Linked DNA regions of Homo sapiens: region 2 is reported to be linked to region 1. Evidence: microRNA targets listed by miRTarBase, many of them from high-throughput screens and not tested one by one. Region 1 holds a microRNA gene; the other region holds the end of a gene's coding sequence.

Evidence for each region. Region 1 holds the annotated microRNA hsa-miR-2355-5p (AUCCCCAGAUACAAUGGACAA, at 826-846, opposite strand). A microRNA usually pairs through its seed, bases 2 to 8, with sites in the 3' UTR of a target mRNA and lowers its output. Matches are read on the target gene's strand: a 7mer-m8 pairs with bases 2 to 8, a 7mer-A1 pairs with bases 2 to 7 and ends in A, and an 8mer does both.
Region 2: miRTarBase lists MFSD12 as a target of hsa-miR-2355-5p. Seed matches in the 3' UTR shown: 7mer-A1 at 560-566.

Annotation. Positions count from the first base shown.
Region 1 is chr2:207,109,218-207,112,366 of GRCh38, forward strand. It overlaps MIR2355 (microRNA 2355), which reads right to left and starts at 856; the gene lies at 770-856. The region is part of intron 2 of KLF7 (KLF transcription factor 7); the gene reads right to left.
Region 2 is chr19:3,542,202-3,545,201 of GRCh38, reverse strand. MFSD12 (major facilitator superfamily domain containing 12) reads left to right here. Exons shown (of 10, transcript NM_174983.5): 9 at 263-393; 10 at 470-1,003. The coding sequence ends at 492. TEKTIP1 (tektin bundle interacting protein 1) reads right to left here. Exons shown (of 4, transcript NM_001135580.2): 2 at 1,729-1,967; 3 at 1,522-1,647; 4 at 1,172-1,373. The coding sequence ends at 1,192. Among named protein-coding and RNA genes, the nearest start is that of TEKTIP1, 4.5 kb to the right of the region's middle. RefSeq lists a cis regulatory region at 2,217 and an enhancer at 2,145-2,289.

The sequences.
Region 1 (3,149 bases):
TCTTAAGTTCAACCAAAATAGACAGAATGTAGGAATATACAAGATAATCACTCAGTTTTCTTAGCTATTCTGAATTAGTAGTTATACTGAACAAGTAAAATAACAACAAATAGCCATTTATTTTTCTGAACCATAAACAAAACTGAATTCATTTATATTGTTTCAACTTAGGCCCCCAAAAGAAATAACTGATCTCTAAAGGAAAAACAGAGTAGGGCAGGCTCTGTGATGGTTCAGCAGTGAAATCTTTGAAAAATGATTCTTTCAGCCTCAGTTCCCTTATTTGTACAATGGGTATAATGAGAAGACTTACCTCATCGGTAAGTGAAGGTTAAATGGAAGGATGTATGTGAAACACTTGGCAACTGTAAAGATCAATACAAGTGATATTATTATTGCTTACTTGGGTAATGCACTAACATAGAAGCAGCCATTCCCAGGCTTGGTACCCAATTGCCTTCTTACTCCCAAAGCTGATCTGAGTAGGAACGCCTCAGCTTACCCTTTCTTTAGCACATCTGCTCTGGGAAGCTGACTAAGTAACCCACTGCATCTTCAGGCCATCAAGATAATATTACTAATTCCCTACTGGATCTAAAACTAAGGTCCGATAACAACTGTGATCCAAAACATGGCACTTAGCATGACCCCACAAGGCCAGCTCACTAATGGCAATCTCTTCAAGTGGCAAGGGATAAGCTAATACATGTAAAAGCCACAGATGTCACGTGCTCCCTACAGCCACATTCACATGTATGAGAGGAATAAAGTCAGCAGTATTATCTCCAAACAGCAAGGACAATGCCATACGATTATAATAGCATATTGTCCATTGTATCTGGGGATGACACGTCTGACAATGTTATTTTCTATGCACGTGAATGTAGCTGAAAGGGCCAATGCATAATTCACAGCTCCTGACAAAATGCAGACATAAAGTATGTGTCCATTAGATAAGGCAATTTAAATCCTTTTACCTGAAATAGCACCTTTCTCCCTAAGAACTCAGAAAGCTTCCAGTATGCTCCTCATGGTGCTGGTGCGAACCAGAACAGTGAATAGTAGGAAATGTACTGAGGCAGCAAATGCCAGCGCAATATACAGTTTTACCAATAAAAGTTTTATTTTCCCACGGAAAGCACGTCACTCTTATTTCTTCACTAACAGTTAATCTTCTTTTTGGTAACGAGGAAGCAACTGTTACATTTCAGCAAGGCCACTGTACCCAGGGGGAGAATGACAATACCATATGATGGTGTGGCTCTTCAGTGCGTGGTCAGCTAGGCCCATTTCCTGGCAAAGCACCTCCCTCCCACGTACCAGCCTGGCAGCTGATGTGATCAGACCTCTGCCTCAGCAAAATCTCAAATTATTACAGGTCAGGAGCCTTCTGCAAAAGGGGAGGGCATGAGGCTCAGGAAGAGTCACAATCACGAATCTTCAATCTAGAAGGTTAAGCATTTAGTGGAGGTAGGGAGATTTCTTTCTTACCATAAGGGGAAAAGCGGCACATCATCTAAATCCTGACAGAAATAATAAATAATGCAATATTTCCATTTAGTCAATATTGTTAAAGATCATAAAAGGGAAGAAGGCAAGACCTGGTGGGTAGGTCATCTTAAAAGGATTAGGAAACGTTTTGCAAGTGGATCAGAGCAACCTACAGAGAAGAAGACAGCTAAGGTTGCATTAGGCCAGGGTTTCTCAACCTTGGCACTGTTGACCCTTGGGCCCACATGATCCTTTGCTGTGGAAGTTGTCCTGGGCATTGTAGGATACTTAGCAGTATCCCTGCCCTCTACTTCCCAGATGCCAGTAGCATACCCCCAACCCCACATATGACCATGAAAAATGTCTCCAGACATTGCTAAATGTTCCCTGAGGGAAAAAATCTCCCCTGGTTGAGAACCACCACATTAGGCAACTAATGATCTCACATTTTGGGAGAGTGGCTGGACCAAAAGATTTGCTGTCACACATAATGGCCTCTTCAGACATTGACAGGATGTCCCGATACCCTCCTTGAACCATTGTGTGACTCTCCCATTCCTGCTATGCCCTTCTTAGCCTCAGAAGTTCTTAAAAGTTCAGGGAAGGCCCATCTGTGTGGAATGCTCTCCCAGTGCGCACAGGCCACATAAGGTTTTGAGCACAGGGTGTCCAGCTACAGGCTGAGAGGGGCTGAATCTGGCTCTGCTCCTCAAGCACAGGGAAGCTGCCCCACGCAAAGGGTACTTTTTCTAATTCACACAAAAGCATATTGTGGCTTAGCAGCAGCCCTGCTGGGGGACTAGCAGCCATCAGATTCGTCCTTTCCAATTCTGTCAACCGGTTTGCTTGATGTCAAAGCTAGCAGTTTTGTGTGGCCATGAGAATTAGCAAAGCAGGTTTTCAGGACTGAGGAGAACCAGGGGTTGAAGCAACTCCATGGAATACCTCCTTTCTTCATTCCCCAAAGCATGCTTGCTTGTATGCCTGCACTCTCACTATTGTTTTAAACATGGAGACATCAAAAGAAAAAAGATCTGCTCTCCAAGAAGAGTACGATGAGAGGAAGCCTCGGAAGTATGCACTGATGTTCATTTATCACTGGGTTAATAACCATGACCACCTTCAGTCTTCAAAGACCCCTGCCCTGGGTTTCCAGGGTCTTGCCAGACCACAGTGAGGCCGTATAACCACATCCAATCAACCGGTGAAGAGGGCTGGGTAAGACAAACTCCCCAGACTTCTTTGAACTTTTCAATCTGTATCCTGCTTAAGTCAAATAGGGACTATGCATAATATACTTGCAAAGTTGTTATTCTGACAGTCTGCTGTCAACAAAGATGAAATACTCAAACAAAACCACCTCCCTCTCAAAGTCAGAATATAAAACTTGTCAAGTGACAAAGGGATATTCTGACTTCTGATGGTTCTTCATAAGTAAATGGCTAATTCATTTAATGGGCAAATGCTTTTGAGTGATTAACAACTGGTCCTTTTAACAGAGATAGCAGAAATAATATTATACCCTCTCTGTAAGTTTTTCTTTGATAACAAGATTTTCTTTTGCAATTTGAGCACTACTAACGGCTAGCTGGTTTCCTTTAGACAGGTGTTAACACTGCGATCTTCTCGCGATCACCTAGCCTGGCTGGAGGCCTTCT
Region 2 (3,000 bases), not on the chromosome of region 1:
GCAGGCGGGCCATGCTGGGGCTGGACCATGAGGAGACAGGGAAGGGGAGACATGGTGGATTTGGCATGGATGCTGGAAGCAGGGCCCACAGGACTGGCCGAGCTGTTGGGTGTGGGACAGGAGGGAGGGAGTGGCAGGGCCCCCAGCTCCTGGATTGGACAGGACGGAGCCGCTGTCGGGGGTGAGGGGAGGCACAGGTTCAGCTTGGGTGGCGGGGGGGTGGTACCCGCGGTGCCTACTCATCCCCCGCCTCCTCCCACAGCTCAGAGCTCTGCTGCAGGGCCTGCGTGAGCTTTTACCACTGGGCGATGGTGGCTGTGACGGGCGGCGTGGGCGTGGCCGCTGCCCTGTGTCTCTGTAGCCTCCTGCTGTGGCCGACCCGCCTGCGACGCTGTGAGTCCTGGCCCACCCCTCCCTCCCCAGACACTGACCCACACTCTCTAATGCCATTTCCACCCCTCCCTTGCAGGGGACCGTGATGCCCGGCCCTGACTCCTGACAGCCTCCTGCACCTGTGCAAGGGAACTGTGGGGACGCACGAGGATGCCCCCCAGGGCCTTGGGGAAAAGCCCCCACTGCCCCTCACTCTTCTCTGGACCCCCACCCTCCATCCTCACCCAGCTCCCGGGGGTGGGGTCGGGTGAGGGCAGCAGGGATGCCCGCCAGGGACTTGCAAGGACCCCCTGGGTTTTGAGGGTGTCCCATTCTCAACTCTAATCCATCCCAGCCCTCTGGAGGATTTGGGGTGCCCCTCTCGGCAGGGAACAGGAAGTAGGAATCCCAGAAGGGTCTGGGGGAACCCTAACCCTGAGCTCAGTCCAGTTCACCCCTCACCTCCAGCCTGGGGGTCTCCAGACACTGCCAGGGCCCCCTCAGGACGGCTGGAGCCTGGAGGAGACAGCCACGGGGTGGTGGGCTGGGCCTGGACCCCACCGTGGTGGGCAGCAGGGCTGCCCGGCAGGCTTGGTGGACTCTGCTGGCAGCAAATAAAGAGATGACGGCAGCCTGGCTCCTGTCTGCCTGCGGGGGGGCTCTGGGCAGGGGTAGCCTGGGCATCTCAGCCCTGCCCTGGTTGTGGGCGGCCAGCGAGCCCAGTGTCTGCCTCTGTCCCGAGCCTCTGGTCCCCTGGGACTAGGTTAGTGCCCCCTCATCTGGGTGCAGAGACAGTGGGTGCATCCTGGTAGCATGCCTTTATCGGGGAGTGGGTGTGAGGGAAGGCGGGGACCGCTGGCAGGTGGAGGGGCAGTATGGTTCCAGGACCCACTCCCGGTAGTTCTGGGTGGTGCCGGGCGGGCGCTGGGGTGCCGACAGGGAGGGCACGTAGTCTGATGCCCTCCACAGTGGCTCCACCCCGTACCGGTTCCTGTTGAGCACTGTAGGTGGGACTCGGGTCACCATGTGCCCCCACCTCCTCGCCGTTGGCCAGCAAGGGGCTCCTGGATCGCCCCGGGCAGTTTCACCCTGGCCTAGGTGGCCTTGTCCCCCTGGCCTCCCAAGGACCCACCCTGCACCTAGCCTCACCGTATTCCTTGCCCCGGATTGGCCTGTCTTTCCACAGCGCGCTCCCCCACCGGGTGCTGGGGGCCTGGTACTGGGCAGGGACGATGGGGTCATGCCAGGCGGTCTCCCGCAGGTGCTGGGTGTAGGCTGCGGTGGGGCGGGGGCTGGCGGTCATTCCTGTCCCCCTCTGGCAGGCCCGCTGCCCAGGGCGGGGGGGGGGGCACTCACCCGATGGCATGCTGCACTCACGGTGTTGGTAGCAGCTGTGCCAGCGGTTGTAGGCCTCGCGGAAGGGGCTGGCCGGGGCCCGTGGCAGGTTGTACCAGGCTTCCCAGGCGTCCGAGTTGGTCAGGCCTGTGTACCACAGCTGGCCGGCTGCGTCCCGTCCCATGGGCGTGTACTTCCAGCGTGTGGCCTGCCTGATGGCTGGTGGCCAGCGGGAACCCTCCAGGGACAGGTAGTCATCGCTGAGGGTGGGCAGGGGGCAGAGACTGAGCCCATGTCTACAGCGAGTGCTTTGACCCCTTTGCGATGTCTGCCAGGGTGGATGATGTAGAGGCCTGGCCCACGGCGTGGGGTCTCCCTCCCTCGCCACTTGGAGTCTGTCCTTCAGCCCTGTACCCCTCACCCCAGAGTGGGTGCTTGAGGAGAGAGGCTGACTCCCCCTCTCCCCACACATCGCACCCCAAGCACCCAAGTCAGCACTAAACCTTTCTGTTCTCAGCTTTTCTTGCCTGGAGAAGAGGGAGGGGAGAGGACAAGGGCCCTGGCTACTCCTGGATTCCTACAGTCCTTGTCCAGCCTCCAAGACCCACAAGTCCCTTCCTCTGGGAAGCCCCCCTGGCCTGGAGGTGCACCAGGAAGAAGTGGTCTGGGGCTGGCACTAAGCCATGGCCCAGGGAAGACTGGGGGACCCACTAGGCCAGGTGTGTGGCTCACGCTTGTAAACCCAGCACTTTGGGAGGCTGAGGCAGGTGGATCACTTGAGGTCAGGAGTTCGAGACCAGCCTGGCCAGCATGGTAAAACCCCATCTCTACTAAAAATACGAAAATTAAGCCAGGCATGGTGTGGGGGCGGGGGGCACCTGTAATCCCAGCTACTCAGGAGGCTGAGGCAGGAGAATCGCTTGAACCCAGGAAGTGGAGTTTGCAGTAAGCTGAGATCGTGCCCTTGCACTCCAGCCTGGGCAACAGAGTGAGACTCTGTCTCAAAAACAAAAAGACAAGAGACTCAAAGATGTTTTATGCTTTGACCTTGCTCTTGGGAATATGTCCCAAGGAAGTCATCCCAGAAAACAAGGTTGCTGGCCCCAAGACAGTCTAGCAGGGTTCAAAACAATCTCATCTGCCCTGCACGGAAAGCCCGGTTCCAGCTCTCATGGCAGGAACTCTGCTTAAATCCTGACTAGACTCCCAGGTGCCCACAGAACATGGGAGTAGCCTGGTCAGTTACAGAGCCTGTTTGAGGGACCCCACATAGACTCGGCTTTTCCACTAGAA